Homo sapiens: one gene and its partners. The protein of the gene in region 2 purifies or fractionates together with the protein of the main gene of each other region. This does not show direct contact. Each region holds a gene or a part of one and is shown on either strand. Other genes may lie near its edges. The genes, in order: TBC1D15, UBAC2, PCYOX1 and TBC1D17.

Evidence for each region.
Region 1: the proteins of UBAC2 (region 2) and TBC1D15 purify together in Homo sapiens (affinity purification with mass spectrometry; 4 studies listed by BioGRID and IntAct, with this or other methods). This does not show direct contact.
Region 3: the proteins of UBAC2 (region 2) and PCYOX1 purify together in Homo sapiens (affinity purification with mass spectrometry; 2 studies listed by BioGRID and IntAct, with this or other methods). This does not show direct contact.
Region 4: the proteins of UBAC2 (region 2) and TBC1D17 purify together in Homo sapiens (affinity purification with mass spectrometry; 2 studies listed by BioGRID and IntAct, with this or other methods). This does not show direct contact.

What each region holds. Positions count from the first base shown.
Region 1 is NC_000012.12:71,891,757-71,898,779, forward strand, and holds part of TBC1D15 (TBC1 domain family member 15), read left to right. Parts: intron 1-994; exon of another isoform or gene 995-1,049; intron 1,050-1,465; coding exon 1,466-1,568; exon of another isoform or gene 1,569-1,663; intron 1,664-2,041; exon of another isoform or gene 2,042-2,043; intron 2,044-2,568; coding exon of another isoform or gene 2,569-2,619; intron 2,620-2,929; coding exon 2,930-3,127; intron 3,128-4,190; coding exon 4,191-4,319; intron 4,320-4,920; coding exon 4,921-5,024; intron 5,025-6,090; coding exon 6,091-6,185; intron 6,186-7,023. UniProt on the Homo sapiens protein: Acts as a GTPase activating protein for RAB7A. Does not act on RAB4, RAB5 or RAB6.
Region 2 is NC_000013.11:99,336,847-99,343,869, reverse strand, and holds part of UBAC2 (ubiquitin-associated domain-containing protein 2 isoform 1 precursor), read right to left. Parts: intron 3,551-7,023; coding exon 3,305-3,550; intron 1-3,304. UniProt on the Homo sapiens protein: Restricts trafficking of FAF2 from the endoplasmic reticulum to lipid droplets.
Region 3 is NC_000002.12:70,261,115-70,268,137, reverse strand, and holds part of PCYOX1 (prenylcysteine oxidase 1 precursor), read right to left. Parts: intron 6,927-7,023; coding exon 6,752-6,926; intron 1-6,751. UniProt on the Homo sapiens protein: Prenylcysteine oxidase that cleaves the thioether bond of prenyl-L-cysteines, such as farnesylcysteine and geranylgeranylcysteine. Only active against free prenylcysteines and not prenylcysteine residues within prenylated proteins or peptides.
Region 4 is NC_000019.10:49,872,983-49,880,724, reverse strand, and holds the start of TBC1D17 (TBC1 domain family member 17), read right to left. Parts: upstream 3,024-7,742; 5' UTR 3,002-3,023; coding exon 2,981-3,001; intron 2,583-2,980; coding exon 2,484-2,582; exon of another isoform or gene 2,369-2,483; intron 2,228-2,368; coding exon 2,153-2,227; intron 447-2,152; coding exon 323-446; intron 1-322. Other genes in the region: AKT1S1 (proline-rich AKT1 substrate 1), read left to right, coding at 4,070-4,122, 7,423-7,742. UniProt on the Homo sapiens protein: Probable RAB GTPase-activating protein that inhibits RAB8A/B function. Reduces Rab8 recruitment to tubules emanating from the endocytic recycling compartment (ERC) and inhibits Rab8-mediated endocytic trafficking, such as that of transferrin receptor (TfR).

The DNA of each region.
Region 1 (7,023 bases), on a different chromosome or scaffold from region 2:
TGTTGGTAAGGCAGTCATTTCATCTTCGGATCTCCAGTTTAGTGGCCACTGTTTAAGATATGGAGCCATAGAGTTATCTGAACCCAGATAGCTGAAAGTTGCCTATTTGTTCCTCTTTTATATGTATAGGCAGTGGTTTGACTTTCATGAGCATTTTTTATTTGGGTTTTAAAGAAATAATTTGACTTAATTTATTGTTAGAAACAAAATGATGGCAGTGCCAGCAGCACTGTGCTAGGAATAAAATTTTGTTTCTTTATTAGCTACTTTTCTTTTCTGATGCTACATTTCAAAGTCCATCATTTAAAAAATGCCTTGTGAGAGAATCTGTAAGTCTGCCTATTAATTATGACCCCTCAAAATATTCAGAAAAGTAAATGTTTTAAAATGTATTTTTTTTCCCTCCTATGTCAAATGACTCAACCTCAGCCCCTTTTGAAAGGCCAAGGGGCTTATTAGCTACTATTGTATATGCAGATCGAGTGCTGTTCCTGACTGTGTAAGAATATAAGATCCTGTTTTGGATTTCATATCCACTCTAGCATTACTGTTACATCCTGTTATGTTAGAATTGAGAAGGGATAACTGTTATTAAAGATCTTATCTCAAACATTTATAATAAACAGGAGGTGTATAGCAGCAAAATAACACATTTAATTTTTATTTTAAACATAGAAAATTTGTAGATTTATTAGAACTGACTAAGTCATAAAACTCACTAAATAGAAAAAAGACTGGATAATTTGTCAGATGACTAGAAATTAGATGTCTGTTTTGGAAACATTTTGTTAAATTCTGTCATTACTAAGAAATGTGAAGAGACTTGCTTCTAGAGTTTAATAAGCAAGAACTAAAAACATAGTATTACCCAACCATTCATAATAATCTTGTTAAAATATGTTCATATGTGTGTGTTTGTAATTATGGTTAGCATGATTAATGATCTTTATCAAATAACTAATATAGCTTACATTTTTAACATCTTATATTGCAGTATTACTAAGCTGTGAATGAAGGTGGAAATGATTTCAAAATAGGACATATTTTCTGTATGTAAATATTATATACTGATGACTCCTAATGTCTGTTTTGGCTTTCTTTAATTTTTATGATAATAAAGCCAGCTATCTTGTAATGGTTTTCTACTATAATTCTAGAGAAGAATTTAGGTTCATTCCAGTTTAATCCTTTTGGCTTTACCTGGAATAAAAATACACTTTATATTTGTTTTATTTACGTTATATACAGTGTATTTAGTATTTGTTAATTTTGTATTTTATGTTTCATGTAGTTTTGAAGCTCCTTTAAAATAGTTACTAAATATTTGCTAATGTATTAATGGAAAACTGTTAAAATATTTTGGGTTTTTTTTTTTTTTGGTAAGGAACATTTGTGTTAGTAATTGTTCATGTAGTAATTGATACAGTGTGTTAGTATTTTCTACAAATCCTCTTTTTTATTATAGATCTCCACAGGATAAAAGAACACTTCTTGTGAATTGTCAGAATAAGAGTCTTTCACAGTCTTTTGAAAATCTTCTTGATGAGCCAGCATATGGTTTAATACAAGTATGTTCCTTAAATCTATCCTGTATTATTCTGACTGCATTATTTTATATACCCTGTACTTCTCATCTTCTCAGAGAGTATGCAAAATGAGACAGGTACATATATATACATAGATATGTGTGTGTGTGTGTGTAATCTTTTTGGAACTATTCTCTAATTTTACAGAAACAATAATAAGTTTTCATGTTATTTGCAAGACTCAGAGGCTTCCTTGGTTCTTAGTTACTCATAAGGAAATTTCTCAGTTTATTATAATACTAAAATTAGACATCAGTAGATTTGTATCATAACTTTTATTGATTAGGCCAGGGATCACAGAGTAGGCCAGTTTGAATTCATTAATGATCGGTTTAGGCAAAAATCTGGTTTGAATTTAAGTAGATTGTTTTGACGTCATGACAATCTTATTCCCCTAAGAATATTTGAGTACTGTTCTTACATTTGGCTAAAAATGTGCACTTAATAATAGGCAGAAGTAAATTTAATTATCACTCAGATGACTATGTAAAGTAATGAGATGGTTTATTCATTTATTTATTTATTCACTTATTCATTTAACAAATATGTGAGTGCTTGCTGTGTCCCAGCTATTCTTTTCCTGGTTTTGAAGATGTAAAGATTAATAAGATATAGAGGGAACTTTAGGAAAGAGGATGAGAGAGAGAACTAAACACTGTTTAAAATGGACAATAAAAGGATAATTTTACTTATTGTGAAAAGAATTATTTAATAAATAACTGTTTTTGCTAAATATGAATGAGCAAATAGTTTGGGCTTCAGAAGTTACCCTGGCACTTAACAGTAGAAAAACCTTTTGCTGTTTTCCAGGGTAGCACTGTCCCAGAATAAATTATTCTTGTTGGCATGATTTACTATTCATATAATTAGATTAAAATGTCAACTAATATTTAAATATGAGTTTTTAAATTTAGCCATCAAATATTTTGTGTCAGAATAGCATGGTGGTACACACTTCAAGAAATATTTTTTTTGTATGAAGGCAGGACTGCTAGACAGAAGAAAGCTGTTGTGGGCCATTCACCACTGGAAAGTAAGCACTGCGTATGTTTTCTGATGTATGCAGATTGAGTGAAGCCTGCAAATCATTTGTTTATCTGCAATTCAATCAGTAGCATTAACTTGTCATTTATTATGCTATTTTAACCAAATGAAATGATTGGCTTAGAAAATTTAAATTTTTCTTTGAAGAAAGAAAATACAAATTTAAGATAATCTTAGAACACTCTGTTTTAGTCCTGATTTCTTTTCTTTTAAAAAGCTTTGCTTTTTTGCTCATGATGGAGTATTCGTTTTTCTTTATTTGAGTTAATAATGCTAATATTTTTCTTCCTACTGCATAGAAAATTAAAAAGGACCCTTATACGGCAACTATGATAGGATTTTCCAAAGTCACAAACTACATTTTTGACAGTTTGAGAGGCAGCGATCCCTCTACACATCAACGACCACCTTCAGAAATGGCAGATTTTCTTAGTGATGCTATTCCAGGTCTAAAGATAAATCAACAAGAAGAACCAGGATTTGAAGTCATCACAAGAGTGAGTAAAGATTAGTATTAATATAGCTCTTATATTTTAACAGGAGAACATGTACTATAGAAATAGAAACTTAATTTTGGTGATATCTGCTTCTTTCCATAATCTGTTCTTAACAACTTTTTGCTAGTATATCTGACAATGAGTGCTTGTCCTGCCACTAAGTTCTTCATTTGTTCTCTATCTTATACTCTTTCTTGATTAATGTTGGATCTCTCTTCTTTGATTACCTTTTGATAATGAAGTTTGTTTCATTGGGTGCATAGCAGAGTGAGGAGCGAACCTTTCCTATTACCTCTTAGTTCTGTTCCTTACTTGCATGTTTTCTCATAGGCATCAGAGACAGCTAGTCAGGATACTACTTTTAGGGCTTTTATTCTCATGTAATACTTCCTTTTTTAAGTAAGATGGGTTTTGGCCTGAATTATGGCAGATCTTTATATGTGCTCAGTAAGATTTAAATTTGCTACAATTCTAGGCTTGTACATAGTTAGAAAACTATAAATATCTAAATTTTAGTGCTTAATTAAAGGGTTTATCTTGCAAATACTATTTTAAAATTACCAACATCTGTTAATTGAATAAAACACTATAGAAAATGCCGAGTGAAGCTAGTGGGTCATGAATCAATTCTGAGAAATACAAACTTTAGAAGAAAAGCTAATTTTTAGAATATGATTAATGGAATAATTATATATTCTCTCTTTTTAAATAATACAGCATATCATTTGGTTTGAAGGTTTCTTACAGAATTTACATGTTGAATGTTCTATACTTACATAATTGAACCCAAAATAGTAAAGAGCTTTCTTTTAATAACAAATATTTTTAGTCTGTGGGGTTTTCTGTTTCTGAATTTATAACCCAGTTTGTTGTGTGTTTAGTAGAAGGGAAATACATGTAATGCTAACTATTATAGTTAAACTAAACATGGGAAAATAAGGAACAATCTTAAAAGTATTAGAAGTCATGTCTGAAAAACAGTATTTTAAATTTAGTTTCTATATGCCTTTATTTCATTTCACTGGTTAAATATGTACTTATTATTGCTTAATCTTATTTTTAGATTGATTTGGGGGAACGCCCTGTTGTTCAAAGGAGAGAACCGGTATCACTGGAAGAATGGACTAAGAACATTGATTCTGAAGGAAGAATTTTAAATGTAGATAATATGAAGCAGATGATATTTAGAGGGGTAATTTAAACACTCTAATATGGCTTGTCTTATAAACTCCTAGTATTTAGGGGTTTTGTTGTTATCGTTACTGTTTTGGTGTGTTTTTTTTTGTTGTTGGTTTTTTTTTTTTTTGGTGGGGGAAGTAGGGAGGAATGAACTCTGTTATTTCTTTGATGAATGATGCCTTAAAATTCCTGGATTGAGTAGGACAGAGTGAGGTGCTTATGATGTTCCTGGGGGTTGGGTAGACCCTTAACTCTGGGGGAAGAATTCTTCCGTACTTGAAGTTCTGTGGGTTTTGTGAAGGAGGCCTGCATTCCAGTGGCATTTGCCTTATTCTGTAAGATTGGGCTTAGACTCACCAGTCACACTGTCTGTCTGCTGTAGTCTACTGTATTCTGTAGTCTACTGTATTCTGTGCACTGTTTAAACTTTCTGGCAGCTGCTTACATCTTTTGGATCTAGAAGTAAAAAACAAGATGATATTCACTGAATTGAACTATTTACATATATGAAACTACCTCTTAAAGATTAGTTTTCCTTTTTATATGCAAGTTTTGTGAACTTACAGTATTACATTCTTTTTCATTCATGTATTTAATATGTATGCTTTCTTCAGGGACTTAGTCATGCATTGAGAAAGCAAGCATGGAAATTTCTTCTGGGTTATTTTCCCTGGGACAGTACCAAGGAGGAAAGAACCCAATTACAAAAGCAAAAAACGTAAGTAATGGTCTTTCGTACATTTATCAAAGAGATTCAAGTAACCCACTCATACAAATTAGTATAGGGTTTCTAGATGAGGATTTGGAATAGACTGGGGAATGGAAAAACAACTTCATTTTTATGTTTTAACTTAAAAATTATGAGCATTCTAATTATTTTAAATCAGAAACTTACTAGAAGCACCTTTTTGCATTTATTTTTGTGAATATGTAAAAAGAAGATAAACATATTCCCTTATATAAGCCTTGTACAAGCCTTTTGCATACTTGAAAGATAACTACGTAGACATACACTTAAAAACATCTCTCATTCATCTTGATTCATTTTTATAATTCATTATGAAATTATAAATGGCTCATAAGAAATATATTTGCTATTTAGATTAATTACCTTTAAGTTACTTTTCTGATACTCTTATAATGGATCCTTCATTCTTTTTGGAAGAGTATTTCTATTTTAAGTTATTCCTCAGACTTGAAAGGAAACACAGACCAACTTTCCAGGTACAACTTCTTGTTCTCAGTTGTCAGTCTAGCCTTTGATTTAAAGCTATTTTCAGTCATTATGTGCATATTTAAGTTATCTGACAGTCTTCTCTTTTCAGCTTGTTTACCAGTTCTTCTAAGACATTTTTACATTAACTAGTTTCTGCAATAAACTGCTTGGAAATGGAACTATAATGTCACATTTTTTAAAAAAAAAGTCACTTAGATTTGTATTTACAATTATTTGGAAACTTTAGTGGTTAAAATATTTCATGACTAGAATACTTTTAGACATGATTTTAAGGATGAGATAAATGTTTTTGTAAAAGAATACCTAAAATTATTCTAGTAGTTGAACAAAGTTTATCACATAAACTTTGTGATATTTATCGGTTATTTTTTTCTTTTGTTTTCACTTATTTATCATAACTTTAAACGTTTTGCTATTGTTTTTATAAACTTACATTCCACTAGCATCATAAATGCTTTGATATACTGTTTATAGAAAAACCCAATTAAACAGTGTTAAAAATAAAGTTTTCAAATAGCTTTCTTTGATGTCAAATTGTTTTCTATAGTGATGAATACTTCAGAATGAAACTGCAGTGGAAATCCATCAGCCAGGAACAAGAGAAAAGAAATTCGAGGTTAAGAGATTATAGAAGTCTTATCGGTAATTTTTTCTTAACAACTTTGGAAATGCAAGGGGGGATTACATTGAAATCTTGATAAGAGTAAAGAAGTGAAGATACATGGTAATAGCACTAGGGCTCAAAAGAGAAATCAGAATAGGAAAGTACATTGCAGTGTGTGTTTAATGTTCTTTGTTGTTCCTCTTCCAATAGGCATATTAATTCAGTAAGTTTATTTATAAGTGTTGATATATTTAATTTTCAGTTCCAAAGTATGAATTTCTAAAAAGATTGTTTACCTTTATTTGCTTTTTGAATTAATTTCATTTTTAAAAAACTTTATTTTCTTTTTTATTATGAAAGTCTGTTTATTGTAGAAAAATTAACTGTAGATGAGCAAAAAGAGGTAAATAGAAATTATTTTTGTTTCTGTCACCCAGAGATAATTATGGTTAATAGGTATTGGTTTATATCCCTTCAGAACTTCTTTAAATATACATATATTTCATTTTTAAAATTAAATAAATGACTCCAGATATAAAATTTAGTATTTGAAAATAGAATATTTACCTGGGGATAACTATTCTCTAAAACACAGAGATGCTTGATAGAATTTTATCATTAAAGCATTAGTTGCATTTCATAATCTCCATTTACAAATGAGAAACTGAAGCATGGAGAACATAAATGACCTGTCCAAGGTCACACATGTCCCAGTTTAATGTTCTTATTACACTGTCTCTGTAATTTTAGGATAGCATTGGATAGTACTGGAACTTAGTTTTGAAATTCCTATATTGTATCTGGATTTGTATATCCGTGGTTTCATAAAGAATGATAGAGGGATTTGTTACTGCTGTTAACACCCTCCCATGAAAG
Region 2 (7,023 bases):
ACCCTGTACGGTACTCGTGCATGCACACAAATACGGCAGATAATTTCCAGTGGTGGTTTAACAAAAGAGTTCTCTACGTGGTGATTTATCATACTTATGTGAAGAAAACTGAGACACAGCTGAGTGAAGAAGTTCAGCAGGAGGCTAAGTGCTCAGGTTTGGGTGTACCCATGTGCGGACCCTAGAAGAGAACTTAGGAAGCTTAGGAAAAAATCAAGAGTCTGGTCTGTGCTGCCCAGCAGACCACTCAACGTAAAAGCCCAGCAAGAGCCCAGGGGCTGGTGTCCTGCTCTGGACTTCAGATCTGTTAGTGAGACCATCCTATGAAAGTGGAGGAGTCTGACAGCAGTGTAGACAGCCATAAAGGCCTGTGCCACTTCACAGGCGCCTGGTGGGAATGCACGCTCCAGCAGGGCAGGGGTTTGGGTCTGTCTCATTCCCTGAGGCCTGGGTACAACCTGGCAGATCCCGTGATGTTCCAAGTATCTGGGGGGAAAGACACCGTGCGGAGTTTACAGCAAGGCAGGAAAGGAGAACCACAATGGGGGTCCGTAGAATCCTGGAGCGAGGGCGTGCGCAAACAGCCAAGAATCCCACTTGCATAAACTGCTGCTGCACCATGAAGTGCCTGTCTGTAGGCCACAAAGTGAGCATGTGGTCAGCAGTGGAGACCCACCAAGTTACCAAGCCAGGTGGGCCGACAGAAACCCATCATCAGATGGACACGGGCATCTGGGCTCAGCATAGGTGGGGCTGCAGGGCATGGGTGAGCTGCAGAAGCAGGCATGCCAGACCACCCTGGCAGCCACCTCTGCTGCACCACAGCCTCTTCCCAGCTAACACCGACTACCACAGCTGGTGGGCCCCTCATGACCAAGTGACAGAGGGGAAAACAGCCAAATGGACAGGCTGGCTCAGGACATGAGTGGCAGCTGAAAGAAACGGCTGCATGATGGCTCAATCTTGAAAGACAGCGATCAGGGGAACCCCCTATGGGCAGAGCCTGGGCAGCACATTTGGTCATCAACTCTGTGTGAAGAGAAGTGGCCTGAGGCAATTACACGTGTGGATCTGCTGGGCATGGCAGATCACCTGGTTGGTCGGTCAGGGGACTGGAAGGGAGGGAACAAGGAGGATCCAGCTAAAGGAACAGCATCAAGTGTCTTGCAGGTCGTGCCCACCACGGGCATCCACCACAGAAAAGGCACCAAATGGAAGGTGGACAGAATGACTGTGGCTCCATCACCAGATAACCCAGCGCTGGCACACGAATGGATGGCCATGGTGGTAGCACAGAGGAATGTGTGGGTCCCCCTCACCTAGGCCGACCTATCTCCTGCCACTATGGAGCATCCAACCTGGCATCCACAGAGACTGTGTGTGCCTGATAACTACCGTCTGCAAGCAGAACAGTCACTCAGCGCCGAGACTATGCTGGGCCCTTTCCACTCTGCAGTGTTATGGAACACACTGTCTCCCACCCCTTGCCCCTGCCCCAAATTCACACGCTGAAGCCCTAACCCTACGATGTGACTGTATTTAAAGGTAGGAACTTTAAGGAGGTAATTAAGGTTCAAAGAGGTCGTACGCATGGGACTTACCCAACAGGACTGGTCCCCATTTTGGGACAACTCAGAAGGGCTCTCCCAGCTTCACTGTGCTCCATAAGACCAGCGAGGCTTTTGCTGGAACTGCAGCTGCTCCCTCTGTCCCATCTTGCTGCCTTCGCCAGCCCGCCCCCATAGATACTGATGCTGACGGTGTTCTCTCATAAACTCTTTGTATAAAAATCTTCCTGGGGAGGCCAATCTGAGAAATGCAACTTCTCTGGTTTGCTTATGAGGACAAATTCAAAGCTCTCCAATGGAGAATCTCCTCCCAGGATTCCAAAGGTATCTCAGACAACATATTTCCCCCAAATCTGCTCTTTTGATATTGGTGAAATGGAACTATCAGTCATCTATCTAAGATTATCTAGGCCAGAAACATCAGAACCATCCCCTACTTCTTTCTCTCCCTCATAAGCTCTGTGCCTCTACCTTTATACTCAATCACTACTCAGTTTTTCTGACCTTGATCATTCTGATTTCTCATACCTTTCGCTCTTCTCTCAGTTTCCTTGAAGGATTTACCTCCTGCTAAATACGAGGCTTCATCTGTAGCCTGTGTTCATCTTGGATGTAGCTCTTCTCTTACAGAACTTACTACTTCTTTGCTTTCGGCTCTCAGCTCTCATCCCTACAGAGGTGACTCCATCACCTATATATATATGTAGCTTCCACATTTCCAAGACAGAGATGTCCATCCTCCAGCTTTAAATACACCATGGGCATCTTTATGGCATGTTCCAGAGTCACTCAAATTCAAGCACATCTTTAAGAAACAACTTTTGCTTCTCTATTTCTCTTGTAGACTCTGCCCCTAATAAGCTGCCCCCTTCCTCCCCCCCCCTGATATAAACTCTGGGACCTGCATCTCCAATGGGACTCTAAGGACCTCAAACCTGATTTCACTTCTCCAAACCATCGTGAGATCTGCAGACCTACTTCTTGCATCCAATGCTAGTGGAAGACAGAGAGATGGCAGAGGTAACTGTACGGTTTACAACTACCCCAGGGGTAAAGAAGGTGGAGGCGAAAAATGGGGAGCCCTGTGGGCTGGCTCACAGAAGTGTCCAAGAAAGATCAGGCCTGAGGTTTTAGCCTGATGTGCACTAACCCTCCTTCTCTCACTGCCCATGGAAGACAAATGTAGTATCAGATTGTTTGGATGCAGAATTTGTAGACAAATGTGCAATAATTTCTGATTATTGATAGCAAGGTTGAGAAAACACAGCATTTTTTTTTATCTACTCCTTGGTTGTTCCACTGAAAATCTTCTTGCCTTCATATTCTCTTCATTTCAACCAAGGAAAATCAAGAAATTTTACATTTGTTCTTCACTCCATAGCATATGATTAGCATTTTAACAGGAAGACACTGTGGCTTTTACAAGATTATAAAAACAGATAAATAGCACATCTTGTTAACTAGGTTGGTGTTTCTCTAAGAAGTCATGCTTATCTAATATAGGTGGAACAAGAATGTCCAGTTTGACCAATCTTTCAGCTGCAATTTATTTTTTACCTTTTTAAAAAACTAAGAATGGCCACTAACAGAGACCTACAATCTCTTTGGAAATGTCAAAATCCACTTGCAAGGCACTGGAATAAAATGTAGTCTCTATCTCACATGCAATCACAGAGGAAAGATTTGCTTGGGCCACTGAGAATTTCTAAATTTTTAGTGATTATTATCACTTTTACCTGCTGCTGTCTCTGTCGCCTCCCTTGTGCAAACTGAGAGAACATCAGCTGCCGGTCCAGCAGCTCCATTCTCTGCTGTCTCTGGATGTCCAGCGTGGCTCCCATCCCAATTCTGGCTTCGCTGGTGGGTTCTGAAGAAGAGAAGATGGGTTCAAGTGTCCAAGAAAAGAATTTTGCCATCCAGCTGGGGATGCAGAGCACCTGATGCACCTGGAACATTTTGCTGTCGTAGCACAGACCGGACATCTAGAAGAAAAACGTCCAATGTGATTGTTTAAATGTAGTATTATTTTAAAAAATGTACACGACTCAAAAATCAGCAGCCTCCAGACACTGCACACGGTATTTTTCTTAGTCATAGCAGTGTTAGGCAATAAGCAAAATCCTCTACCACACTGCAGAACACTAAGCAGTGCAAATCAACACAAAATTGAACTTAGTAAAACAAAATTGTTTTTTATTGAATTAGAAGAGCTAGCAAAATTCTAATCATTTAGTATTCAAAGTTCTGGTAAAAGATTGTCAAGACACTGTCTTCATTTTTTAAAAAGCCGTAAAAGATCTGATTATTGAAACACTTTCACACTGTACTGACTCTGCGGTTACCTTTGTTGGCAGATGGCCATCACAGAGACACCAGCAGAAAACAACTGCCATGTCTCAGCTGACCCAGTCACACGATCAATTTATCAGAGAATAAACACAATCTAAAATCTTGGTTTTTATTTACATAGTGTTTTAATCAGTTTTTCAACTACTGATTTTTCTAGACATTTAAAATCCTCACCAATATTAGTTCCATTTATAAACCAACCTTGTCTTCATCTTGAAGGTCATTTATAATGTATGGTTACAGAAGTCTCAAGGCTTCCTATGATTTTCTAGTTAAAAATGACTATGGCTATTCCTTTGTAAAAAAAAAAAAATCTTGATGTGAATTTGATTCTTAGGATTAGAAGATCAGATTAGAACATATTTGACAACTTTCTAATATGAGAAAAGTATACTTCAATGTTTAAAAATAAAATTTAAATTGATGAATTGGCAAGAATTCTTTGAGACTGTGCTACACACCAGGCACTGTTCTGGGAACTTAGAATACAGCAAAGAACAAGATAAGCAAGGCCCCACTCTCACAGGGCTTATAGCAGTCAATGTGGAGAACAGGCAGTAATCAAGTCAACACATAAAACTATTTCTGGCAAGTTCTGGGAAGGAAATAAAGTGACATGGGGCACGAACCTACTCTGGGGGCAGCGGGGGACATCAGGAGAGCCCTCAGAGAAAGTGATACTTGAGCGAAGATCTTAAGGATGATGCGGTGCCCGTGACTTGATGAACTGGGGAAATAACATTTTGGGCAGAGAAAGCAGCAGATGCTGCGCAGCCCGAGCTTGGGAGTGTCTATTAGATATCTTGGGGGGCTACTGAGTGGGCAGGTGGCTATGTAATTCTAGAACTCAAGGAAAAGGTCGAGATAAGGATTTCAGAGTCACTGGATATGATATGACATTTAGGGTAACAGGACTAGAGGAGATAAAATGGGGGGGAGGAGGAGACACAGCAGAAGAGAGAACAGGACTAAGGACTGAATCCAGGAGTGCACAAATATTCTATGGACAGACAGAGTAGGAAACGCCAGTAAGGAAATCTGAGACAGGGCTGCCAGTGAAGAGAAGGGAAATAGAGTTTAGTTATCACTGAAGCTAAGAAGTGTTTTAAAATAGGGATGGTCAGCTATATCTAATGCAGCTGATAAGTAAGACAGAACTAGCCACTGGATGTTGCAAATGGAGGTGTTTGATAAACAAGGTGTTTACAAGAACAGTTTTGGTACCAAAGACAGACTGTAGTAGGCTGAAGAGTGAATGGTGGACAACTTCTGGTTTCAAATAATTTCTGTGCCCCTTTACTCAAAAATAGTACAAGACAAAGAAAATGAAAACAGAAACAAACTCCAAGGTCCATGAAACCAGAAACTAATCCTGAACCATGCTAACAAAATAGAAAGCTTATCAAGTGATTATAAACCACTCTGCATATAAGCAGCATATAAGTCCAAATGCCTGCAGAGAGTCCTGTGGGACTCAGAAAAGCACAGGGACTAGAGCAAGCTTGTTCAACCTGAGGCCTGTGGGCCACATGTGGCCCAGGACAGCTTTCAATGTGGTCCAACACAAATTCATAAACTTTCTTAAAACATTACAAGGTTGGGCGCAGTGGCTCACACCTGTCATCCCTGCACTTTGGGAGGCCAAGGCGGGCGGATCACAAGAGGTCAGGAGTTTGAGACCAGCCTGGCCAACATGGTAAAAACCCGTCTCTACTAAAAATACAAAAATTAGCCGGGCGTGGTGGCACACACCTGTGGTCCCAGCTACTCAGGAGGCTGAAGCACAAGAATCGCTTGAACCTGGGTGGTGGAGGTTACAGTAAGTCGAGATTGTGCCGCTGCACTCCAGCCTGGGCGACACAGTGAGACTCTGTCTCAAAAAAAAAAAAAAAAAAAAAAAAAAAAGAAAAAAAGAAAAAAAGTTAGGAGATTTTTTTGCAATTTTTTTAAAGCTCATCAGCTATCTTCAGTGTTAGTGTATATTATGTGTGGCCCAAGACAATTCTTCTTCCAATGTGTCACAGAAGAGTTCAAAAGACTAGATACCCCTGGACTAGAGGGTCTAGGCCCTGTGGAAGGAGGAGAGAAGTAGAGGGTTACTTAAGTCTGGGTAAGAGGCACCCCAGTTCCTCCTCATGCTCCATGTACCCTTTCTCCCCTCCACAGAGAGAAGGGAAAAGCTGTGTAGGGCATGAACCAAGGAGGGTCCATGTGGGTTGGGAAGGCCAAGGCCTCTGCACAGGCAGATTATGTGCATCTCATGCGGCTGTCAGCATAGGGGTTCCAGAAGAAGACAACAGAGGGAATATGGGGGAAAGGATATTATATTTAAAGAGATAAACAGCTGAGAGTTTTCTAGAATAAAGAAAGAATATAAATCCTTAGGATGAAAGGGCAAGAGTCCCTAAAAGAATGCTAAAACGAAATTTACATCTAGATCCACTGTGGTGAAACAAAAGAAAGAAATCCTTAAAAGCAACCAGGGATAAAATACAGACTGTTTAGAAAGAAAAAATAAACTGTTAGCAAATAACAGCAAGAAAAACTGTAAGATAATTGGGAATAAATAAATAATATATATATAAGGCCTTGACAGAAAAAAAAGAAAAAGATAATAAGGGATATTTTTTCAAAACCAACCCTAGTGATAATAAAGATACCAGTTCCATGAATAGGAAGATGCAAAACTTTTAAGATACCAATTTTCATCAAATTAATACATAAATTAAATATCATTCAAAATAAAATCTTAACAGGGTGTTTTGTTGGAATGTAAATGCCAAGCCTCAAATTCATGCGGAATATTTAAGGTTTGCATTTTAAAAACACCATGTTGGGAGAAAGAAGCCAGACCCAAAGCCTGAAAACACGATTCCACTTCTGTGAATGAATGAACCTAAACCACACACTAAGCAGTAAAACGAGACAGGAAAGCGCAAAGATGATGACTATGTGTGCTAGGAGGGGTCACAGAAGGGAGGGAGAAAGAAGGGGAAGGGGTCACAGGAGGGAGGTGGGAAGGAGGAAGAGAGGTGGGAAGGAAGGGGGGCACCATGGGCTGCGGGGCTGGCCAGGCATGGTCTGTACCTGCATGGTGGATTATGGG
Region 3 (7,023 bases), on a different chromosome or scaffold from region 2:
CTTAGTGGCTTAAAACAACACAAATTTACGGCCGGGTGCAGTGGCTCACACCTGTAATCCCAGCACTTTGGGAGGCTGAGGCGGGTGGATCACGAGGTCAGGAGTGCAAGACCTGCCTGGCCAAGATGGTGAAACCCCATCTCTACTAAAAATACAAAAATTAGCCGGGCATGGTGGTGGGCGCCTGTGATCCCAACTACTCGGGAGGCTGAGGCAGAGAACTGCTTGAACCCAGGAGGCGGAGGCTGCAGTGAGCCAAGATTGTGCCACTGCACTCCAGCCTGGGTGACAGAGCAAGACTCTGTCTCAAAACAAAAAACAGCTCTCCCTCTCCCCCTCCCCCTCCCCCTCTCCCTCTCCACGGTCTCCCTCTGATGCCGAGCCAAGGCTGGACTGTACTGCTGCCATCTCGACTCACTGCAACCTCCCTGCCTGATTCTCCTGCTTCAGCCTGCCAAGTGCCTGGGATTGCAGGCGCGCGCCGCCACGCCTGACTGGTTTTCGTATTTTTTGGTGGAGACGGGGTTTCACCGTGTTGGCCGGGCTGGTCTCCAGTTCCTGACCATGAGTGATCTGCCAGCCTCGGCCTCCCGAGGTGCCAGGATTGCAGACGGAGTGTCGCTCACTCAGTGCTCAATGTTGCCCAGGCTGGAGTGCAGTGGCGTGATCTCGGCTCGCTACAACCTCCACCTCCCAGCCGCCTGCCTTGACCTCCCAAAAGTGCTGAGATTGCAGCCTCTGCCCAGCCGCCACCCCGTCTAGGAAGTGAGGAGTGTCTTTGCCTGGCCGCCCATCGTCTGGGATGTGAGGAACTCCTCTGCCCGGCCGCCCAGTCTGGGAAGTGAGGAGCGCCTCTTCCCGGCCGTCATCCCGTCTAGGAAGTGAGGAGCGTCTCTGCCCGGCTGCCCATCGTCTGGGATGTGGGGAGCGCCTCTGCCCCGCCGCCCCGTCTGAGATGTGAAGAGCGCCTCTGCCCGGCCGCGACGCCGTCTGGGAACTGAGGAGTGTCTCTGCCCCGCCGCCATCCCGTCTGGGAGGTGAGGAGCCTCTCTGACCAGCCGCCCTCTCTGAGAAGTGAGGAGCCCCTCCGCCCAGCAGCCGCCCTGTCTGGGAAGTGAGGAGCCCCTCTGCCCAGCCGCCACCCCGTCTGGGAGGTGTACCCAATAGCTCATTGAGAACGGGCCATGATGACGATGGCAGTTTTGTCGAATAGAAGTGGGGGAAATGTGGGGAAAGGAAGGAGAGATCGGATTGTTACTGTGTCTGTGTAGAAAGAGGTGGACATAGGAGACTCCATTTTGTTCTGTAGTAAGAGAAATTCTTCTGCCTTGGAATGCTGTTTATCTATGACCTTACCCCCAACCCCATGCTCTCTGAAACATGTGCTGTGTCCACTAAGGGTTAAATGGATTAAGGGCGGTGCAAGATGTGCTTTGTTAAACAGATGCTTGAAGGCAGCATACTCGTTAAGAGTCATCACCACTCCCTAATCTCAAGTACCCAGGGACACAAACACTGCGGAAGGCGGCAGGGCCCTCTGCCTAGGAAAACCAGAGACCTTTGTTCACATGTTTATCCGCTGACCTTCCCTCCACTATTGTCCTATGACCCTGCCAAATCCCCCTCTCCGAAGAACACCCAAGAATGATTAATAAATACTAACAAAAAAAAAAAAAGTTATAATCTTACGGTTCTGTAAATTAGAAGACCAAAGTCAGTCTCTCCGGGCTAAAATCAAGGTGTGCACAAGGCTGGTTCCTTCTAGAAGCTCTGAGGGAAGACTGTCTTTTCCAGCCTCTACAGGCCACCTGCATTCCTTGGCTCGTGGACGCACACCCCTTCCTAGCATCACTCCAATCTCTTCCTTCCATCATCACATCTCCTACTACCTACCCTGATCCTCCTGCCTCTCTAAGGACCCTTGTGATTATATTGGGCCCACCTAGATAATCCAGAATAATCTACCCATCCTTAACCATATCTGCAACGTCTCTTTTACCTCAAAAGGTAACACATTCACAGGTTCCAGGAATTAAGACATGGACATCTTGTGGCAGACAGCAGGGGAGAGGATTATTCAGCCTATAATAGGAGGCTACTCTAGCAATCCAGACAAGAGACAGTGGTGGTGACTTGGAACAAAGTGGTAGCAGTAATCCTGGAGAGAAGTAGTGGAATACTGGATGTATTTTAAAGGCTGATGGGATTCAAGATAGAGTGGGTTTGGGAAATGAAAGAACAAAAATTGACTCAAAATATTTGGTAGGAGTAACTGGAAGGAAGAAAGGGTGTTTATAAAGCCTTTCCCTGTGAGTCTATCAGTCTCAGATCAAGAAGTGTTAAGGATCTTACAAGTCCCCAGAAATGCACTAACTTGAGAGAGAAGAATAAGCTTTAACCTAGTCTACAAGCCAAGATATCTCAACAGGAAGCCATCAGCAGACCAGAGATTTAAATTCCACAAACATCTGAGTAAACATCTACTACATTCTAGTTACTGTGCGTAGCATAGAACACAAGCACACAGTGTGCACCGTATAATAAGGGATGTTTGAAAAGAAAGATGAATGTTGATTGAAGCATTAAGGAAATGCTTTGCTGAAAAAGTGAGATAAGAGGTTGGACTTGGGAGTAAAGAATGGCATCCGGCTGAGCGCGGTGGCTCACGCCTGTAATCCCAACACTTTGGGAGGCCAAGGTGGGAGGATCACTTGAGCCCAGGAGTTCAAGATCAGCTTGGGCAACATGGCAACACCCTGTCTCTACAAAAATTTAAAAAATTAGCCAAGCATGATGGCACATGCCTATAGTCCCAGCTGAGGCTGGAAGATGACTTGAGACCAGGAGGTCAAAGCTGCAGTGAGCTGTGATTGCACCACCGTACTCCAGCCTGGGTGACGGAGCAAGACTTGGTCTCAAAAAAAAAAAAAAAAAAAAAATTAGTTAAGAATGGCATCCAACCAGAACAACTACATAAATGTATGTGCAGAAGTGGAAATTAAGCTAGCTAGTGCTGATGTCAGGGGCTGCAGGATTTCCACTCAAGTACCTCCAACAGCAGAGAATGAATGAATGCACTGTTTTCGAGTATTGCCTACCACAAGCTTGAGCCCTCTTTCGAGTGTCATGGTTTACTACTGTTACATAGGTCTTTCTCCACCTTGTGTATACTTTGATCTTGGCTCACCACAACCTCCGCTTCCTGGGTTCAAGCGATTCTACTGCCTCAGCCTCCCAAGTAGCTGGCATTAGCTGCGCCTCCACACCCAGCTAATTTTTGTATTTTTAGCAAGGCGGAGTTTCACCATGTTGGCCAGGCTGGTCTCGAACTCCTGACCTCAAGATCTATCTGCCTTGGCCTCCCAAAGTGCTGGGATTACAGGCGTGTGCCACCGCGCCCGGCCCGTAAATTATTTTTTAAAGTCAAAAACAGTATAACCTATGTATCCCCTCACTGGTTCTTTTTCCCAGTTCTGTAATACCTTGAATTCACTTCAAAAGTGATTTCTTAGGCCAGGTGCGGTGGCTCATGCCTGTAATCGCAGCACTTTAGGAGGCCAAGGCGGGCAGATCAATTAAGGCCAGGAGTTTGAGACCAGCCTAGCCAACATGGTAAAACCCCATCTCTACTAAAAATAAAAAAATTATCTGGGTATGGTGGCACATGCCTGTAATCCCAGCTACTCAGGAGGCTGAGGCAGGAGAATCGCTTGGACTCAGGAGGCAGAGGTTGCAGTGAGCCGAGATTGCACCACTGCACTCCAGCCTGGGTGACAGAGTGAAACTCATCTCAAAAAAAAAAAAGTAATTTCTTAATTTCTCAAAGGGCAATTCTCTACATCTCAAGCAAGCCACAGATAAAAAAAAAAACAAGGCTGGGAACAGGAGCTCACAACCGTAATCCCAACACTTTGGGAGGCCCAGGTGAGTGGAACACTCGAGCCCAGGAATTCAAGACCAGCCTGGGCAACATGGCCAAACCTCATCTCTACAAAAAAAATACAAAAAATTAGCCAGATCTGATGGCACGTGCCTGTAGTCCCAGCTACACAGAGGCTAAGGTAGGCAGATCCCCTGAGCCCAGGAGGTCCAGGCTGCAGTGAGCCATGATCACACCACTGCACTCCAGCCTGGGTGACAGAGTGAGACCTGTATCAAAAAAAAAAAAAAAAAAAAGAGGGCCGGGCACAGTGGCTCACGCCTATAATCCCAACACTTTGGGAAGCCGAGACAGGCAGATCACAAGGTCAGGAGTTTGAGACCAGCCTGGCTAACACGGTGAAACCACATCTCTACTAAAAATACAAAAAATTAACCAGGCATGGTGGCATGTGCCTGTAGTCCCAGCTACTCAGGAGGCTGAGGCAGGAGAATCACTTGAACCTGGGAGGCAGATGTTGCAGTAAGCCGAGATCCCGCCACTGCACTCCAGCCTGGGCGACAAAACGAGACTCTATCTCAAAAAAAAAAAAGAAAAGAAAAGAAAAACAATACACACAAGCAGGGCTGATGCCATCAGAACTTGATCTGCCTGCTGAGTATGCAGCACCATGCCACCCACCTTCTATAAAGTGACTGGCCGTCTCTACGCAAATTCTATATATTTCCTTGGTTGTGTATTGCCTGTCTCTCCACTAGAATATATATTCTTTGAGGACAAGGACATGTTGTAGGTCCTATACTCTCAACATAGAACAATGCCTAGCACCTAACAGGTATTCAATATTGGGTGAATGAATGAATGGCTACTTAAAAACATTATGCACTGTAGATGGACTTAAGGTACCCACGGGAAAGGCATTTAAGGAACTGACCTAAGAATGATGTTGAGAAAGAAAGAAACCCCAAACTACCATGAGTTATAGAAACCAGAGCATATCCTGCTTAGCTTTCTTTTTTTTTTTTTTAGACAGTCTGGCTCTGTCCCCCAGGCTAGAGTGTAATGGCACGATCGTGGCTCACTGCAACCTCTGCCTCCCAGGTTCAAGTGATTCTCCTGCCTCAGGCTCACAAGTAGCTGGGATTACAGGCATGCACCACCACGCCGGCTAAATTTTTATATTTTTTGTAGAGACAGGGTTTTACCATGTTGGTCAGGCTGGTCTCAAACTCCTGACCTCAGGTGATCCACCAGCCTCAGCCTCCCAAAATTCTGGGATTAGAGGCATAAGCCACTGTGCCCAGCCCTGCTTAACTCATATTTGTCCTGTTCAATACCTGGTCATATGACATGTTTTGTTTTGTTTTGTTTTTCCCCTCAAGATGGAATCTTGTTCTGTCACCCAGGCTGGAGTGTAATGATGCGATCCTGGCCTCCAGTACCTAAAACTGTAAAGCAGCATAAAAATTAGCATGTGCTAGCCGGGCACAGTGGCTCATGCCTGCAATCCCAACACTTTGGGAGGCTGAGGCAGGCGGATCACGAGGTCAGGAGATCAAGACCATCCTGGCTAACACAGTGAAACCCCGTCTCTACTAAAAATACAAAAAATTAGCCAGGCACAGTGGCAGGCACCTGTAATCCCAGCTATTCGGGAGTCTGAGGCAGGAGAATCGCTTGAACCAGGGAGGCAGAGGTTGCAGTGAGCCGAGATGGTGCCACTGCACTCCAGCCCGGGCGACAGAGCAAAACTCCATCTCAAAAAAAAAAAAAAAAAAAATTAGCACATGCCGGCCAAGCTCGGTAGCTCACACCTGTAATCCCAGCACTTTGGGAGGCCGAGGCAGGTGGATCACCTGAGGTCAGGAGTTCGAGACCAGCCTGGCCAAGAGGGTGAAACCCCATCTCTACTAAAAATACAAAAATTAGCTGGGCGTGGTGGCAGGCATCTGTAATCCCAGCTACTCGGGAGCCTGAGGCAGGAGTATCGCTTGAACCCAAGAGGCAGAGGTTGCAGTGAGCCAATATCGAACCATTGCACTCCAGCCTAGGCAACAAGCGAAACTCCATCTCAAAAACAAAAAAACAAAAAAACTAAAAAACTAGAACATGCCAACAGCTTTAAAAATACAGATTGTACCTTTCAAAATTAGACTGGCTATTTTATGTTAGTCTTCCTGATTACCAAAGTGATACATATTCACACGCATTAAAAAAACTGTTTAAATATAGAAAAGCATAAGGACGAAAAAGAGGCACCTGAATTCTCACTACCCAAAACAGTGCTAGAATGTAAATTCTTGGAATATGGAACTTTTACTCTACTTCAGGCTGCTGGTTCACTGAAAACATGTCACTATTAAAGGCCATTTAAGTTTTCTGATCCTTTCTACAAGCTCTTGTACACATTATCTCAATTCATATACACAACACCAGCACAGCATAGAGATTAAGAGTGAAGACTCAAAGGCCAGACTGCCTGGGTGGCAACTCCAGCTATACCACTTACTATGTGGGTGAACTTGCCTTTTAAAACCTCTCTACACCGCCACCTTCTGCATCTGTTTAAAGAAGCTAAAAACAGTACCTACCAGAGTAAGTTGTCATAAGAATTCAAGGCATCTAACAGTATCTGGCAACACTAAAGAAGCATTTGCAAAATACACTTCAGAAGCAAAAATAAACCAACCTTTCAATATCCAAGCAAATAGTCTGCATAGTTTCTACAAAACATTTTGCCTAACAATGTTATAAACAGGCCTTGCTGTGAGGTAGAAAATGCTTACAAGAAATCATAATTCCTAAAGTTCATCAAGTTTAATTTAACCTAAATTAAAAGATCTTAGGTTAAATGGAAGGAAAAAAAATTACCTCATGAACTTGTCTAACACGTCCTCTACCCACATGTGCATACGGAGGGATTGAAATCCATAGCGCCAAACTAATTTAATCACGTTAATTATGAACCAGTTGCTCTCCTCAAATACCAGAGTCTCTCCATTATATATCCCCAGTAGGCCACCAGAGGCCTGAACAGCAGAGAGACCTGCAAAAACATAAAGCACAGCTAAGTCAGTGGTGTCTATGCTGATCAAATGAAAGAACGTAATCTGAGTGAATTTGGGGCTTCCCTCAGTTCTCAG
Region 4 (7,742 bases), on a different chromosome or scaffold from region 2:
TGGTGCAAATCACCCTAACTGGCTGCATCTGTCACCCCACCAGCCTCGAACCTCAGGGGCAGGCCTGGTGTGGGAGCACCCACAGCCAATCCGGGAGCCCAGTAGGATGAGCAAGGCTGCAGTCTCAGAGACACTGGCCATGTTGACCTGGGCTGGGACAGTCCTGTCTTCCCATTCACTTCCATGCTCCTGGGACTGGAAGGTGGTGACTGGTGGCCTTCTTGATTGTGGGCAGCAAAGCCCTTGGGACCGTGACCACTGAGGGCAAGATGTGTCCTACCTGGCCCACACGTGCTTCTCAAGGGCCGCCACCTCAGCCTACCTCTCGTGGGCTCTGAGTGGCAGAGCTGTGGCCGCACAGTGCTGATGACAGCCCAGTCAGGTTCATAGCCGGGGTCAAAGGTTGGTTCCTCCTCAGAAGCACATGAGTCACCCCCACTGGAGTCCTTAGGAGAGGAAAGGAGCAGACAGTAAGGGGCCATGGATTCAGATCTTAGCCTCGAGGCTACCCTGGAAGATAGCCCCATTGAATAAAGAGGGAAACTGAGGCACAAAGAAGGTACAGCAGGCCGGGTGCGGTGGCTCACGCCTGTAATCCCAGCACTTTGGGAGGCTGAGGCGGGCGGATCACCTGAGGTCGGGAGTTCGAGACCAGCCTGACCAATATGGAGAAACCTCGTTTCTACTAAAAAAATACAAAAAAATTAGCCAGGCATGGTGGCGCATGCCTGTAATCCCAGCTACTCGGGAGGGTGAGAAAGGAAAATCGCTTGAACCTGGGAGGCGGAGGTTGCAGTGAGCTGAGATGGCGCCATTGCACTCCAGCCTGGGCAACAAGAGCAAATTCTGTCTCATTAAAAAAAAAAAAAAAAAAAGAAAAAAGAAAGTACAGCACTTGCTCAGGGTCACCCAATGCAGCCAGAGAGCGAGCCAGGACTTGACCCCATGTCTCCCACTGCATGGGGAGGTCCATGCTACACAGCAGGTGGCTCTGCAGTCAGGCTGCGGAGTGCTCAATGGACACTGTTGTACTCACCAGGTAAATACAAACCAAAACCACAATAAGATACCACTTTGCACTCTTTTGAGACAGTGAGACTGTCAAAAAAAAAAAAAAAAAACAATAACAACAACAAAAAAAACACACTACATTTCCCAGGTTTCTTTGCAGCTGGAATCCAGGACACAGGACAAATTCTACCAACCAGATGCAGGCCAACCTGGAAAGCGGAAGTGATGTAACGCAACTTCCTGGTGCCTTGGCTGTGTTTGGCTGTGGAGCAAGGTGGAGAGTCATCTTCATCTTCATCTTCATCCTCCTGCCCTGGGGCAGCGCAGGTGGTCAGCTCAGCCTTCCAGTGTCTCGTCACTAGCTCTGTGGGTGCCGACTGACTTCCGGCCCCTGGGTGGAACTCATCAGCTCCAATGGAGGTCTCATTCCCCACTAAAGAACCCCCCTACAGAGGCATCCAACTTCTCCGTGTGCCTTGAAGGTTGTTCTGCTGTCCCTGAAATACCTTCTTGTCCTTTCATATCCTGGGAGTCCCAGCTCAAATGTCTGCTCTCCCAGGAAGCGTTGGGGATCTGGAATCAGACTGTCTGGGTGCAAAAAGTTCCAACACTTCCTAGCGTTTTCGACCTCATCTATCAGTTTCTCAAAAAGTGAGTAAGGGTCAGGGCTTAGGTGGGTCTGGATCTGACTTATCTCTGGGTCTCAGAATTGCCCAGGACGGGGTCCAGCCATGGGAAGTCCCAGGAGACATAACGAAGGGAAAGCCGGGAGCAGTGACGAAGTGGGTGAGTAGGCTGTCAGGCCCTGTCCTCTGGCACCAGAGGAAATGCCATTTCCCTTCAAGCAACTCGAATCCACATCTTGCACCCTGGCAGGGATCTCCCAAGAAGCAAAGGGAGAGAGGGGTCAGCCGTCCCCACGACCGTGCGTCTTATGCTCCCTGCTCTTTTTCCTTGAATGGGCATCCTCTGCCCATTTCACAGAGAGGAGCAAAAGGAGAGGCAGAGTACCCAAGCCTAAACAGGGTCACACATGCCCCACGAGTAGGTCTGGGATTGTACGCAGGTCCCTCAAATGACTTACAACAGCACGGACCTAGAAAAAAAGCGAGTGGAGAAGGGCAAAGCGGGTGGAGCCTACCTTCTTGGAGAAGAGGATTTGGGTGGAATCTCCAGCCTCCTCTACAGGAGCCCAGTGCAGGAGGACGTCATTGTCCTAGGGTAAGGAGGGAGGCGGGGTTAGAGGCGCTCCCCAAACCACATTCCCAAAACTTTCCGTTGCAAATTTCCAAACTTTCCCAGTTTCTACCCTCAGCCTTTCAAAGTCCCGCCCCTCATTCCAGTTCCCACACCCAGCCTTCTTCAGGTCCCACTGCTGACCGCCAGACCAAACTCCTACAGCTGCCGCCTGCATCCCAGACCGCCTGCATCCCGCTCGGAGCGGGTCCGAGCCCTGCTCCCTCCCAGCGCACCTTTTCCACGACACGGATGACACCAGCGATGAGAGAGTCTCGGTCCTGATACTTCTTAGCGCTGGTGTGCAGGTACACTCCGCCCTTCTCAAACACCACCTGAGTTGGGGGGAACCAGCGAGGGCTGGGGCCCAAGCGAGGGGACCAGCCTGGGGAGCCAATAGGGACGGGCCCAGGGAGGAGCCACCCTCAGGGGGCGGGGCCGGGAGGGCCATTGCCCCGGGACCAAGGCGGGGAGAATGGTCCAGCCCGCGTTCGGATGCTGACGTGCGTTCCACAGGGGGCAGGGCTCAAGGAGTCGCCTGAGCCGGGGGGGCGGGGCCATGGGAGGTTCTTCCCTGGGGCGGTGGACGGGAGGGTGACGGCGCGTTTATAAGAGATCGGTGTTTGCCAAGGCCGTGCCGGATTCTCGAGAGCCAAGGCCTGAGAGAAGAGCTGATCACTAGACGGGGCGTTTCGCATACACTGAAGCGAGGGAATGCGTCCTCAGTGCTTACCCTGTAGCCGGCTCCTTCCATAGTCGCCGCCGAAGGCCCCACTGCCCCGCCTCCTCCTTTTCCTAGTCAGCGTGTTGTCACTTCCGGAGAAAACAGTTCCCCTCCGGGCCGGACAGTGGTAGCGGCCCGACCCGTTCTAGAGAAGGAGCGGGTGAAACCATTTTTCAGAAGGGGGTTATTCCACTGGAACCTCGAGGGTGGATCGGAGTCACGTGGCGCAGACGCTGAAGGTGGATCCGGCTACGGAGAGTGCGCAGGCGCAGTGTTCGCCCTCTCGCCACGAAGTAAACAAGTGGGAGGGTCTGAGAGCTGCACCACCTGGGGCAAGCACGCCTTGAAACGCCCACTTCCTTCTCCATATTGTATACTGGAATTGAAGCCAAGGAGGTACCATTTTGCTCGAGGGCATGGCCTAAGCCGGTCAGCTAAGGCCATGTTAATACGGGGCTGTCCCATCTCTCTGCGGGGCGCGACAGCTGGAAGAGCCGAACGGATAAGAGAAGAGGAGGTGAGAGGAGCTGTACACCACAAGAGGCACTGAGGGACTCAGGATAACGGGATGAAGCCGTCAGTGCCCCCAGAAACGAAGCGGCCCCGGACGAATTTCTGAGTCACCGTCGCGAGAAAGCGGGCTGAGCCGCCATTTTGAAGCCTGGCAAACCGAAGCAAGAAATGCTGCCGTGTTGGATCTTTGCCAGCCTTCGTGCCGAATGGGAGCAGGTTGGAGGGAGGGAGAGCCAATATACACTATGGGCTGATTAAGCCCGGTTGGCTGCCATGTTGTTAACGAGCACCGATTTCCTCTACTTTTGTCGAAGAAGTTTATTGTGGGTCAGGGACGTCAGGTCGCTTGCCTTCGTTTACTGTGGTCATGATTGAGCATATGAGGACGGCCATTATTGTTGGGGGCAAATGGAAATGCTCTAGGCGGGGCCATTTTTCTTAGGGGCAAGCTGTCGTCACCCTTGTCAACTGGTTCGGATGAAGCCCCTGTGGCCGCCATCTTGATCTCGGGCGGCCCCGATAAGGGAGGCGGAGTGTGCGGAGAGGAGGCGGGGCAACTGCGCGGACGTGACGCAAGGCGCCGCCATGTCTTTTGAGGGCGGTGACGGCGCCGGGCCGGCCATGCTGGCTACGGGCACGTGAGTGGAGGCGGCGTTGTTAACCGCGGTGTGGGGAGGATTTGGCCGTCCTGAGGCAGCGGGGCGCTGGGAGGGCGAGCGGCTCACGGGAGGGGTATGGCCTGCACAGATCAGAGGGCAGAGGTCTGCCAGCGATCCTTTGCTGAGCGCTGGAAGGGGGTCGCCCGTGGGAATCGTCCTGTCAGACCTGAGGCAAATCGTAGACAGTCTCACCTTGCGGTTCCAGAGCGCCTGGGATCTCTACCTGGGCCGTGGACCACGTCCACGGGGTCGGGGGATGGTTTGGGGGGCCTCGGGGCGCCCCTCACCCGTCCAAAGGCGGGACTTCCGGTCCTGGCCTCCGTCTGGGCGGGATTTCCTGTTTTCTTCCTAGACCAGTGGGTCCTCCCTGGACCCCGGGCGAGGTTGGGAGGTCTCGGGGCAGCTGAGCGTGGCCCCAGGCGCTCACCCCATGGCTACCGCGTTCATGCTCAGGTTCCTCACATCTTGGGGTGTGGGGTACTAAAATTTCGACAGGAGGGGTGGTTCCACCCCTCTCCTCCTTAGCTCTTTTCCCTCCTCCCTGCATCCAAAGAGGACAGCCACATCGTGCTCCCCCTCCTGTGGGGAACACGTCTCACTTTCCTCTAATCTCTCCCTGATCTTACACGAAACTCGTCTATCGGGGCGGGTTCTTCCTCCATCTCTCAGCTCCTTGGAGGAAACAGGACCTCCTCTAGAAGCTGAAGGGTAAGGAGGACCCCCAGGTCTTGGCTACTCTCCTGTTGGGTAGCATTACAGGGTGCCCCTGGACCTTGGCAAAGAGGTCTGTGGAAGTCGCCCTGTCCTTTTTGCTCATGTCTCCTGAGTTGGGGGAGCCCTCACAACTCACTCACCCTATTTCACTCTTTAATCCCGTGGCTACTCCAAGATTGAGTACACGGAGAGTTCATCCTGACGTTCTCTTCCGGGACCTCCTCTCCCCCTCTTCTCCGCATGTCATTAGGGGCTGGAGGCCCGTGGAAGTGAGAGCCCCAGGCCTAGCACGGCGAGGCAGTTGACTTTGGACCAGCCATTTCTTGCTTAGAGCCTCAGTTTCCTCCCTCATCAGCTGGGAAGGACATGGGTGTGTTTGAGACACCGGGTACCCCCCAGTTCAGTGGGGTTTTGGGGCTGGGCAGTCAGCAGTTTCAGCCCCACTTGTGCCCTGTGTAGCTGTGTGCTTTTTTGCCAGTGTCCTAAGCTCTCTGAGCCTCACAGTTTCAGCCCCACTTGTGCCCTGTGTAGCTGTGTGCTTTTTTGCCAGTGTCCTAAGCTCTCTGAGCCTCACTTTTCCATCTGGATTAGAATATCTGCCCTCCTAAAGGCAGGCAGGATGGCGGTCAGGATTTAGAACAGGCCCCGGATCTAGACTTTCTGAGTCCAGGTCCCAGCCCTGCCTCTTCCAGTTGTGGCCCTTCAAGATGCTGACTGCCCCTGGGCCTGAGTTTGCAACTGTAAAATGGGGTGAACTGTAACTAAAGCTCCTGTCTCATAGTGTAGGTGAAAGGGTGGGATGAGAAGGTTGATCCCATCTTGGGTCCTTGCGTGGCTTCTGGGAGGTGGTGGATAAACCTCTTCCTTCCCTTGGGGCTTTGAACTCCCTGAGTGAGTCAGATAGGTGAGATGCCAGGTGTGGAATCCCAGCACTGAATAGGTGCTCAGCAAACACCAACATCAATGATCGTGAGTCATAAAAGGCCTGCAAATTTCATTCAGACTCCAGACTCCCTGCTCCCTTCACCCTGGTGGGCTGGACCACAGCTGTGCCTGAATCCGTGCAGTGGCGGTGTGCTTACTGCCTCCCGGAAGAGCGTCTTCCGCAGCCCAGCAGCTCTGGCTCAACCACGCTGGTTAATGGGGAAGAAAATGAGGCACAGAGAGGGCCAGTGAGCCATCTAAGGTCACACAGCAGGTTTGAGACAGAGTCAGGGCAAGGACCCAGCCCCCCTGCCCTCGCTCTTCTCACCCAGTAAGGAGACGCACCCTGCATTGTCTGCTTAGGGCCGACCTGTCCTGCAAACACAAATCCCTGACCTTGGGGGAATTCACAGTCTGATGCAGGAGGCAGCCAGGTTACAGCTGTCACAAGCTCAGGTGACATGAATGCTCATGGAGGAAGCCCAGGGCATCGGATGGGCTCCTGAAGTCATCTGATGCACCCTGGGGGATCAGGGACAACAGAGGACCTGCCAGAACAGTCTTGTAGGAAAAGCCGTGTGGATTTCCCAGCACAGAGAGCAGCGCCAGCACCATTTCAGCCCCGACTCTCTGAGGCCTCAGTCATAGAACCAGCCAGTTCCCTCTGGAAGGAAGTGTGCTGGGAAGGTGGCCACTCAGACAGTGTGGGACCCCCTATGGAGCAGACTGGCTGGATCTATGGGCGAGGGAAAGTTTCTTCCACCCTAGGATGAGTGAAAGGTTGGTGGGGAATGGAGCACAAGTCATCAAGGTCAGGGACCACGTTTTCTGAAGGCCTCGGGCCTCAGAGGCTCTGGAAGGCCGTGGAGGCAGGATGGCCCAGGAGCTGGGGATGGCCAGAACACCTAGAGCCTCCAGGGCCTGCCCTGAGGACTATGGCGAGGAGTAGCATCAGCTCCGGGTGCTGAAGGAACCCCCTGGGCCTTGTGCAGGACACTCTTGACGGGATGGCTGGGCGACGGAGCAGGGTGGCATCATCCATCAAATTCAACACAAGCCCCACGTGGAATTCTAAATTTTCTAGACACCATGTTAAAAGAGTAAAAAAAGCAGATGAAATTCCTTTTTTTTTTTTTTTTTGCCCAGGCTGGCTTCGAACTCTTGGGCTCGGTGATCCGCCTGCCTCGGCCTCCCAAAGTGCTGGGGTTGCAGGCCTGAGCCACCACGCCCGGCTCGTTCGGCTTTATTGTACTCAGTCTTCAGAACCCAGTGCAGGTTTTATTGTTAGAGGCCTCTCTGCTAGGACTCTCTGCTAGGACTCCCTGCCTTTCCAGTACTCCCTGTTCACATGTGGCTGGCGGCTCCCACAGAGGCCAGGGCAGGGCCAAAGGGGAAGGAGTACAGTGACTTGGGGCAGGAGGAATGGGTTGGGGCAGAGGACGTCGCCAGGGTCTGGGCCTGCGAGGACTGGATGGTGAGAATCCTGGGGAGTAGCAGGTTTGGGGAGGACACACAGCACCGCTGGGACAAGGTGGGTGGAGGGTGGTGAGTGCCATCCAGGGGACGGGCGGGCACTCTGAGTGGGTGGCGATGATGTAGGCCGCCAAGCCTCAGCCCCCTCTGTCCTGCTCTGGCCCGCAGGGCGCGGATGGCGTCGGGGCGCCCCGAGGAGCTGTGGGAGGCCGTGGTGGGGGCCGCTGAGCGCTTCCGGGCCCGGACTGGCACGGAGCTGGTGCTGCTGACCGCGGCCCCGCCGCCACCACCCCGCCCGGGCCCCTGTGCCTATGCTGCCCATGGTCGAGGAGCCCTGGCGGAGGCAGCGCGCCGTTGCCTCCACGACATCGCACTGGCCCACAGGGCTGCCACTGCTGCTCGGCCTCCTGCGCCCCCACCAGCACCACAGCCACCCAGTCCCACACCCAGCCCACCCCGGCCTACCCTGGCCAGAGAGGACAACGAGG